Homo sapiens: one gene and its partners. Changing the gene in region 1 together with any one later gene gives a genetic interaction. Each region holds a gene or a part of one and is shown on either strand. Other genes may lie near its edges.

Region 1 (4,275 bases):
CTGCCTCAGCCTCCCCAGTAGCTAGCACTACAGGCAAATGTCACCATGCTTGGCTAATATAATTTTTTTTTTTTAGAGATGGGGTTTCACTATGTTGTTCAGGCTGGTCTTAAACTCCTGGGCTCAAATGATCCTCTGTCTCAGCCTCCAAAAGTGCTGGAATTACAGTCATGAGCCACTGCAACTGAATTGCCTTTTTTTTTTTAAAGAGACATTCTTGCTATGCTGCCCAGCTGGAGTGTAGTGGTGGGATCACAGCTCACTGCAGGTTCAACCTCCTGGGCTCAAGTGATCCCTCAGGCTCAGGTGATCCCCCTGCCTTAGCCTCCAGAGTAAGTAGGACTATAGGCTAGCCTCCAGAGTAGGTAGGACTATATGCCCAGCTAATCCAGATACCCTTTTTATTAAAAATCTGAAAATCAGGCTGGGACCAGTGGCTCACACCTGTAATTGCAGCACTTTGGGAGGACAAGGTGGGTGGATCATGAGGTCAGGAGTTCGAGACCAGCATGGCCAATATGGTGAAACCCCATCTCTACTAAAAATACAAAAATTAGCTGGGCATGGTGGCGCATGCCTATAGTCCCAGCTACTCGGGAGGCTGAGGCAGAAGAATCACTTGAACCCAGGAGGCGGAGGTTGCAGTAAGCTGAGATCGTGCCACTGCACTCCAGCCTGGGCAACAGAGCAAGACTCTGTCTCAAAAAAAAAAAATCTGAAAATCATTATGGTATGTCATCTACCCTTATTATAATGCTAAAATGATTTCTGATAAAATAGTTCCTAACTCAACTAGAAAACTATAAAGAATGAAAGAATGAGCAGAGTACTCATGATGCCTTTGAGTAAAATCGAAACATCATAGAGCGTGATCTAATTTCCAAATCAATAGGCAGTATTGTAACATTAAAGGAAAGCTATTCCAATCACTTAGAAATACTTGCTAAGTACTGCTTTTTACAGTTATGACAACTGTTTCTATGCATATGAACCAAGCAACCAAATATCTATAACCATGGAAATATCTGATTAGAAATATTTCTAATTTGGGCCGGGCTCGGTGGCTCACGCCTATAATCCCAGCACTTTGGGAGGCCAAGGCAGGCGGATCACCTGAGGTCGGGAGTTCGAGACCAGCCTGACCAATATGGTAAAACCCCATCTCTACTACAATTACAAAAATTAGCCAGGTGTGGTGGCATGCACCTGTAGTTCCAGCTACTCGGAAGGCTGAGGCAGGAGAATCGCTTGAACTCAGGAGGTGGAGGTTGCAGTGAGCCAAGATCATGCCACTCCAGCCTGGGCAACAGAACAAGACTCTGTCTCCCAAAAAAAAAAAAAAAAAAGAGAGAGAAATATTTCTAATTATTGGCCGGGTGCAGTGGCTCACGCCTGTAATCCCAGCACTTTGGGAAGCCAAGGTGGGTAGATCATTTGAGGTCAGGAGTTCGAGACCAGTTTGGCCAACATGGTGACACCCTATCTCTACGAAAAATACAAAAATCAGCCCCTTTTCACAAGATGGCACCAAAAGCTAAGAAGGAAGCTCCTGCCCCTCCTAAAGCCAAAGCAAGGCTCTGAAGGCCAAGAAGGCAGTGTTGAAAGGTGTCCACAGCCACAAAAAAAAGAAGATCCGCGTATCACTAGCCTTCTGGCGGCCCAAGACATTGCGACTCCGGAGGCAGTGCAAATATCTTAAGAGCACCCCCAGGAGAAACAAGCTTGACCACTATGCATCATCAAGTTTCCTCTGACCACTGAGTCTCCATGAAGAAGACAGAAGACACACGCACTTGTGTTCACTGTGAATGTTAAGCCACAGCACCAGAGAAGCTCTATGACACTGATGTGGCCAAGGTCAACACCCTGATTCGGCCTGATGGAGAGAAGGAACATGTTCGACTGGCTCCTGATTACAATGCTTTGGATGTTGCCAACAAAATAGGGATCATCTCAACTGAGTCCAGTTGGCTAATTCTAAATATATGTATATCTTTTCACCATTAAAAAAAAAATTATCAAGGCATGGTGGCGCATGCCTGTAATACCAGCTACTCAGGAGGCTGAGGCAGGAGAATTGCTTGAACCTGTGAGGCGGAGGTTGCAGTGAGCCGAGATCACGCAGCTGCCCTCCAGCCTGGACAACAGAGCGAGACTCCATCTTGAAAAAAAACCTGAAATATTTCTATTGGATTCTGAATACAAAATTTCGCATGGGAGAAATCTTACTTCTTATGCCTGTTACAGTATAATTCCCAAATGTACCATCAGAAAAAAAAAAAAAAACCAACAGCTTATTTTTAAAAGTATACATAGAAATCTTGTTTCTAGGCCGGGTGTGGTGGCTCATGCCTGTAATCCTAGCACTTTGGGAAGCCGAGTCAGGTGGATCACTTGAGGTCAGGAGTTCAAGACCAGCCTGGCCAACATGGTGAAACCCCATCTTTACTAAAATACAAAAATTAGTCAGGCGTAGTGGCACAAGCCTGTAATTCCACCTACTCTGGAAGCTGAGATGGGAGAACTGCTTGAACCTGGGAGGTGGAGGTTGCAGTGAGCTGAGATTGTGCCACTGCACTCCAGCCTGGGCAACAGAGTGAGACTGTCCAAAAAAAAAAAAAAAAATCTTTTTTCTATTCCTATCAACTCTAAACATTTTTACTGACCCACAAACTGGGTCACACCAACTGGTTACACTAACTGATATGTGATCAGTTTCTTTTTTTTTTTTTTTTTTTTTTTTGAGACAGAGTTTTGCTCTTGTTGCCCAGGCTGCAGTGCAATGGCATGATCTTGGCTCAGTACAATCTCTGCCTCCTGGGCTCAAGCGATTTTCCTGCCTCACCCTCCCGAGTAGCTGGGATTACAGGCACAAACCAACACGCCCAGCTATTTTTTGTATTTTTAGTAGGGATGGGGTTTCACCATGTTGACCAAGCTGGTCTCGAACTCCTGACCTCAAATGATCCTCCCACCTCGGCCTCCCAAAGTGCTGGGATTACAGGTGTCAGCCACTGAGCATGGCCATGTGATCAATTTCATTAACTTCTCTAAAAAAAAATTCGTATTTCTTTTTAGAGATGGGGTCTTGATACACTGCCCAGGATGGCCTCAAACTCCTGGGCTCAAGCTATCCTCTTACCTCAGCCTCCTGAGTAGCTAGGACTACAGGTGTGCACCACCACATCTGGCAGTTTCATTAGTTTCTTGATTATCCTTTAGGCATTCCTTTTTGAGAAAATAAGCAAATACAGTTGACTCTTGCACAGCACAAGTTTGAACTGCACGAGTTCACTTGAAAATTTTTTTGGAGATTTGCAACAATTTGAAAAAACTTGCAGATGAACCACATAGCCTAGAAATATGGAAAAAATTAAAAAGGTATGTCATGAATGCATAAAATATATGTAGATACTAGTCTTTTATGATTTACTACCATAAAATACACAAATCCAGGCTGAAACGGGAGAATCGCTTGAACCCGGGAGGCAGAGGTTGCAGTGAGCCGAGATCGCACCACTGTACTCCACCCTGGGTGACAAAGCAAAACTCCCTCTCCAAAAAAAAAAAGTTAAAATTTATCAAAACTTACACACAGAAACACAGACTGTACATGGTGACATTCGCGGTCAAGAGAAATGAAAATAAATGTAAAGATGCAATATTACATAACTGTATAAAATTATAATCCAAACTACAACTGTCACAATTTTGTAGCCACCTATTGCAGTGAACTCAAGTGTTGTATCTGCTTAAAACACAGTAATGCTGATCATCTTGTAAGCAGTTGTCTCACCAGTAAATTGCATATTACAGTAAAAGTGATCACTCATGGTTCCTGCATATTTTTCAGTAATGTCATACCATTAACCTCAAATAGTAACGTGGGACCTATAGGAGGTGCCACTAGTGATGCCTGAAGCACTCCAAAGAAGCAGAGAAAAGTCATGACATTACAAGAAAAAGCTGAATTGTTTGATATGTACTGTAGATTAGGATCTACAGCTGCAGTTGCCCAGCATTTCAAGATAAATGAATCCATGCACATTGACAAAATCTATGTGGAAAAAAAAGGGTGAGGGGTAAGCATGGTGGCTCACTTTGGAAGGCTGAGGCAGGCGGATTGCTTGAGCCCAGAAGTTCGAGACCAGCCTGGGCAACATAGCAAAACCCCATCTCAATTTAAAAAAAAGAATTTTTTTTTTCCTTTTGAGACAGAGTTTCGATCTTTTGCCCAGGCTGGAGTGAAGTGGTGCGATCTCGGCTCACTGCAAC
Region 2 (3,465 bases), on another chromosome or scaffold:
CAACTTAGTAGAAGATAAATTTGAGTTGTAGTGTTTCTGTAGTTGAGAATGAGTGAATGGAAACCTGTAGAAGCAAAGCAGTTAGGAGAAAATCATCTAGAGAAATGTTAGCCTTGAGAGTGAGTTCCACAACCACTTAGCTGTAGTGGTTGAAGGAGGAAAGAATCCTACCTCCAAATTACAACTTTACAAGAAACAGAACTACTAACCTTGAGAAACCATTATTTATGCCATTTATCAGCCCAAACTGAAAATTTAGTGCTCAAAGCTGGCACTATTGTATAACACAAGTTGCAGCATAAATTGTTAAAACCCTGTTGAAGGGCCGGGCATGGTGGCTCATGCCTGTAATCCCAGCACTTTGGGAGGCCGAGGTGGGAGGATCATGAGGTCAGGAGATCAAGATTATCCTGGCCAACATGGTGAAACACTGTCTCTACTAAAAATACAGAAATTAGCTGGGAATGGTGGCACATGCCTGTAATCCCAGCTACTCGGGAGGCTGAGGCAGGAGAATCGCTTGAACCCAGGAATCAGAGGTTACAGTGAGGTGAGATCGCGCCACTGTACTCCAGCCTGGTGACAGAGCGAGACTCCGTCTCAAAACAAAACAAACAAAAAAACCTTGTTGAAAATCATTCATTCATTGAAGAAGTATCTATTAATTACCTTCTCTGTGTCAAGTGTTTGGTAACTGAGCAAATATATAGCTTTTTTAGGAAGCAGTTTAGAACACAGTTTGTTAGTCTTGAAAGTATTCACAAACATTTCCATTTTTGAGAATTTTTCTTTCTTTTTTTTTTTTTGAGACAGAGTTTCACTCTTGTTGCCCAGGCTGGAGTGCCGTGGTGCGATCTCGGCTCACTGTAAGCCCCGCTTTCTGGTTTCAAGCGATTCTCCTGCCTCAGCCTCCTGAGTAGCTGGGATTACAGGCACCTGCCACCACGCCCGGCTAATTTTTGTATTTTTAGTAGAGACAGGGTTTCACCATGTTGGCCAGGCTGGTCTCAAACTCCTGACCTCGTGATCCACCCGTCTCAGCCTCCCAAAGTGTTGGAATTACAGGAGCCACCCTGCCCGGCCAAGAATTTTTCTGATAGAAATCCCTAGGAAGGAAAAAAGTAACATGCCCAAGAATATTCATTGTATCACAATATAATAACAGGACATTTGGAATAGCTTAGGTGTCCAGGAGTAGGGAACTTGATAAGTATATTCTAGTGTATTGATTTGATGAAATAGGATACAGCCATTAAATAATTATGAAGATTGGAGAAGAACGTACAGAATCAACAGGGAGAAGTGGAAATTACATACATGTAACGTTGAACTATATGAAGTTGCTAATACATGGACAAAAAGACCTGAAGAGAATGTGAGAAAGTATAAAATGGTTGATTATGGTAATGGGATTAGGATTTTTTTTTTCTTTCTTGTATCTGGTATTCTTTTTTTTTAAATTTATTTTTTTGGAGATAAGAGTCTTGCTCTGTCACCCAAGCCAGAGTGCAGTGGCATGATCTTGGCTCACTGCAGCCTCCACCTCCTGGGTTCAAGCGATTCTCCTGGCTTAGCCTCCTGAGTAGTTGGAACTACAGGCGCACGCCACCATGCTCGGCTAATTTTTTGTATTTTTAGTGGATATGGGGTTTCACCATGTTGGCCAGGCTGGTCTTGAACTCCTGAGCTCAGGCAACCTGCCTGCCTCAGTCTCCCAAAGTGCTAGGTTTACAGGTGTGAGCCACCACGCTTGGCCCTGTATCTGGTATTGCTAAAATGCTTGGGTAACATATTTTCCTTTAAAATCTTCAAGGACTGACAGGATAGATCACATCCACATCACTCTACATTGATTCACCTGGAAGCTTTTGTATTACAGGGCCATTATGGTAGTGAGTGCACAATTGCAGTCCACTCAAATATTCATTAAGTTAAAATCTTTTTTTCTTATGAAACTTTATGAAACATTTCACACATGCACAAAAATAGAATACATAAACACTCATCATCAACTATGATACCATTGTCACACCAAAAAAATTAGCAGTAATTCTTTGATATCACCTAATAACCTGACTATTTTCTCCACTGTGGCTTTAGATATGTTGGCTATACTGTTAGCTGACCTCATAGTTAAATCAGGATAATAACCATCCCAGTTTTACTGGGACTTGGGGCTTTCAGTGCTACATGCAGGCAAACCAAAACAGTTGGTCAGCCTACTGTCAGCAGCAGACTGCAAGGTCAGTGTGGTTGTTTTAAGTGTATCTTCCTCACCATCCAAGTGTGCACTCCCAAAATTCACACTCAGTCAGAGGAAGAATTGTTTATTAATTAGATCTGGGAGTTGATGCTAAGGGAATTTCACAAACAATGAAGTTAAGACAAGTTCCTCCCTTTAGTGAGCTCACTGTTTCAAGTGGAGGATCAAGACCATTAGAAATAAACAAAGTCGAAGCCAGGTATGGTGGTTCACGCCTGTAATCCCAGCACTTTGGGAGGCCAAGGTGGGTGGATCACCTGAGGTCAGGAGTTCGAGACCAGCCTGACCAACATGGAGAAACATCTACTAAAAATACAAAAATTAGCCGGGTGTGTTGGTGCATGCCTGTAATCCCAGCTACTCAGGAGGCTGAGTCAGGAGAATCGCTTGAACCCGGGATGCGTGGAGTTTGCAGTGAGCTGAGATCGCACCATTGCCCTCCAGCCTGGGCAACAAGAATGAAACTCCATCTCAAAAAAAAAAAAAAAAAAAGAAAGAAAGTCAGAGGTTAAGTGGTGTGGATGATCCAGAGGGAGGAGTTGAGAAAGTCAGGGTAGGGTCAGAGTAATTGAATACTCAGAAACATCAAATTGAGCCTTAAAAGATTGGGTAAAATTTCTAAATTTTAACCGATACATACTATAGCTAGGACTTTTAAACTTCCTCATTATAACACAAATTTTGGGATAAGAAAACGTGTGTAAAAGGCCATTTGGGCTGGATGCAGTGGCTCACTTTGGGAAGCCAAGCTGGTAGGATTGCTTGAGGCCAGGAGTTAGAGATTAGCCTGGGCAACATAGCAAGACCTCATACAAAAAAGTTTTGGTCTTTTTTTTTGGAGACGGAGTCTCACTCTGTTGCCCAGGCTGGAGTGCAGTGGTGTGATCTCCGCTCACTGCAAGCTCCACCTCCCAGGTTCACGCCATTCTCCTGTCTCAGCCTCCCGAGTAGCTGGGACTACAGGTACCTGCCACCATGCCTGGCTAATTTTTTGTATTTTTAGTAGAGACGGGGTTTCACCGTGTTAGCCAGGATGTTCTCAATCTCCTGACCTCGTGAGACCTCATACAAAAAATTTACAAATTAGTAGGTAGGGCCAGGCACAGTGGCTCATGCCTGTAATCCCAGCACTTAGGGAGGCCAAGGCAGGGGGATTGCTTGACCAGGAGTTTAAGACCAGCTTGAGAAACACAGGGATACCC
Region 3 (2,278 bases), on another chromosome or scaffold:
GAGTGAGGGAAGAAGAAGCCTTACCTTAAGGACCAGATCCCTGGCATCCATGAGAAGGCTGTGCCCAGCTTTTGTTCCATTCTCCACCAGTACCTGTTCACAAAAGGGGAAAATATGCAGAAGACTTGAATTACACGAAAGTATAAATGTCAGTAGCTGTGTAAGAGCAATCATAGAGGGAGAAGGAGTCCTAAAAAGAAATAGGCATTACATAATCAGGATGGAGACCCTCAAAGAGGGATAAAGAAACCCATGAAGGAGAAAAATGGTGAAGAATAAAGACAATGAGAGGAGCAAAGGCATGAAATCCATGAAGCTGCTTCAAGACTTAAGGAGAACAAGGAATTTTAACTCACCAGGAAATGACCTGTCTTACGCCATAAGGTTTGAACTACCTCAGTGCGGTCAGCCTTGCTGGGCAGTTCACTTAAGGAAAAAGCTGACACTACTACATCAAACTGCACCTGAGGACCAAGACAAGGAACATGACAGACTCAACATCTCTACATCCCAAGAATACAACAAAGTCCTAGCCGCTAAATTTCTTTTATCTTCTAACACTCAGTGCTGGGCTGCAAAGCTCAAGCCATAGTTTTCCATCTGCCACATTCCACATTTAGAATATTCTAAACACTGCCACTTGCCTTGGGTGATACAGGTAGAAACTGTCTGAAAAAGACACCTGGAATATAAGGCTCCCCAGATTCTGAACCACCTGTGGAGAAAAGAAGAGGCAACTGTGAGTGTGTAGGAAGTTAGGTATAAACTGAAGAGATATCCAGATAAGAAACATGGCCCCAAGAATAGGTAAAGTGTATATCAAAAAGGGCAGGGATGAGCCAGGTATGGCGGTGCGTGCCTGTAATCCCAGCTACCCTAGAGGCTGAAGTGGGAGGATGGCTTGAGGCCAGGAGTTTGAGACCAGCCTGGGTAACATATGGAGACCCTACCTCTAATTAAAAAAAAAAAAAAAAGGGCAGGGAGAATATTAGGCCTCCTGTCCTTTGATTCTTACCCAACCCATCCTCAGTCCAGCAGAAACCTCTAATACCACCCTTTGCTTGACTATAACTTTAAAAGTAAACCAGATTCATCTTAATTTTTACCCTCTTCTCTACTTCCCAGTAAAACACTTTTACTAGTACCCCTTTGCTTTCTTAACTCCCTCAACTTTGGAAGTGCTCTTGCACTCACCTTTCAGTAGTTTTTCTGCCAAAACCAACATGGCAGCTGATCTGTCCACACACATATATTCACGTAGGCTCTGGCCCCAAATACTGTGAGCAGCCCTAAGATGGCAAAATTATTATAAATCACCAATTCCCATGACCAAGAGTCATCTCTACAAGAGGCCCATTTACACCCAACCCCACCCCTGGGAAAAGAGAGTGTTATGTTAAAGTAGTTGTATAGTTAGTAATAAAATAACTAATAGTGTTATTTTCTTGTTTTATTTACAACTCCTAAAAAAAAAAAGGTAGACTCAGCTGGGCACAGTGGCTCATGCTTGTAATCCCAGCACTTTGGGAGGCCAAGGTGGGCGGATCACAAGGTCAGGAGTTAGAGACCAGCCTGGCCAATATGGTGAAACCCCGTCTCTACTAAAAATACAAAAATTAGCTGGGTGTGGTGGCGTGCACCTGTAGTCCCAGCTACTCGGGAGGGTGAGGCAGGAGAATCACTTGAACCCAGGAGTGGAGGCTGCAGTGAGCCGAGATTGTGCCACTGCACTCCAGCCTGGGCGACAGAGTGAGACACCGTTTCAAAAAAGAAAAAAAAAAGGTAGACTCAAAATACTATTTGTAGGCAAAAACAACTTTGATTGATAATTCCTTTTCTTTTTAATTTTTCTACACATGCGCCTTTTTTTACTTGACATTTCTTTTAAGTTCTGGCCCCAATCCATATACCTTCTTCTGCCTTGCCTAATCTGATGGAAGAAACATTATAGATTCCCAACTTGCCTATTCTCCCTCTGGTTTTCCAGTCTGTTAATTTTGGAGTGGTGTAAGTATGGCTTTCTAGAGCTAAAATTGACCAAGATAGGGCTGAAGAAAGTTACTCACCAGGTGACAGAACCAGTACCTGAGCCAAAGTCCATCAAAGTTTGTGGCTGAAATGCTGGATTTCGAGCCCGGATCTGAAGAAATATACAACATCCCACAGTAGGGTAATTAGATACTTATTTAGGACCTTGATAAATGTGAATTAGGAGGCTATCACAGAGGATGTGAGATGTGAATGCCTTTTGAGATTCAATACAAATACCTTATGGGAT

Evidence for each region. A genetic interaction does not mean that the proteins touch.
Region 2: changes in CENATAC (region 1) and PDCD7 together harm fitness more than expected from each alone (negative genetic interaction), as found in Homo sapiens cells (one large-scale study listed by BioGRID).
Region 3: changes in CENATAC (region 1) and METTL17 together harm fitness more than expected from each alone (negative genetic interaction), as found in Homo sapiens cells (one large-scale study listed by BioGRID).

Annotation. Positions count from the first base shown.
Region 1 is NC_000011.10:119,000,693-119,004,967, reverse strand, and holds part of CENATAC (centrosomal AT-AC splicing factor), read right to left. Parts: intron 3,356-4,275; exon of another isoform or gene 3,143-3,355; intron 2,016-3,142; exon of another isoform or gene 1,375-2,015; intron 1-1,374. UniProt on the Homo sapiens protein: Component of the minor spliceosome that promotes splicing of a specific, rare minor intron subtype. Negative regulator of centrosome duplication.
Region 2 is NC_000015.10:65,120,344-65,123,808, reverse strand, and holds part of PDCD7 (programmed cell death protein 7), read left to right. Parts: intron 1-3,465. UniProt on the Homo sapiens protein: Promotes apoptosis when overexpressed.
Region 3 is NC_000014.9:20,992,980-20,995,257, reverse strand, and holds part of METTL17 (ribosome assembly protein METTL17, mitochondrial isoform 2 precursor), read right to left. Parts: intron 2,141-2,278; coding exon 2,067-2,140; intron 1,290-2,066; coding exon 1,195-1,289; intron 716-1,194; coding exon 645-715; intron 465-644; coding exon 357-464; intron 94-356; coding exon 25-93; intron 1-24. UniProt on the Homo sapiens protein: Mitochondrial ribosome (mitoribosome) assembly factor. Binds at the interface of the head and body domains of the mitochondrial small ribosomal subunit (mt-SSU), occluding the mRNA channel and preventing compaction of the head domain towards the body.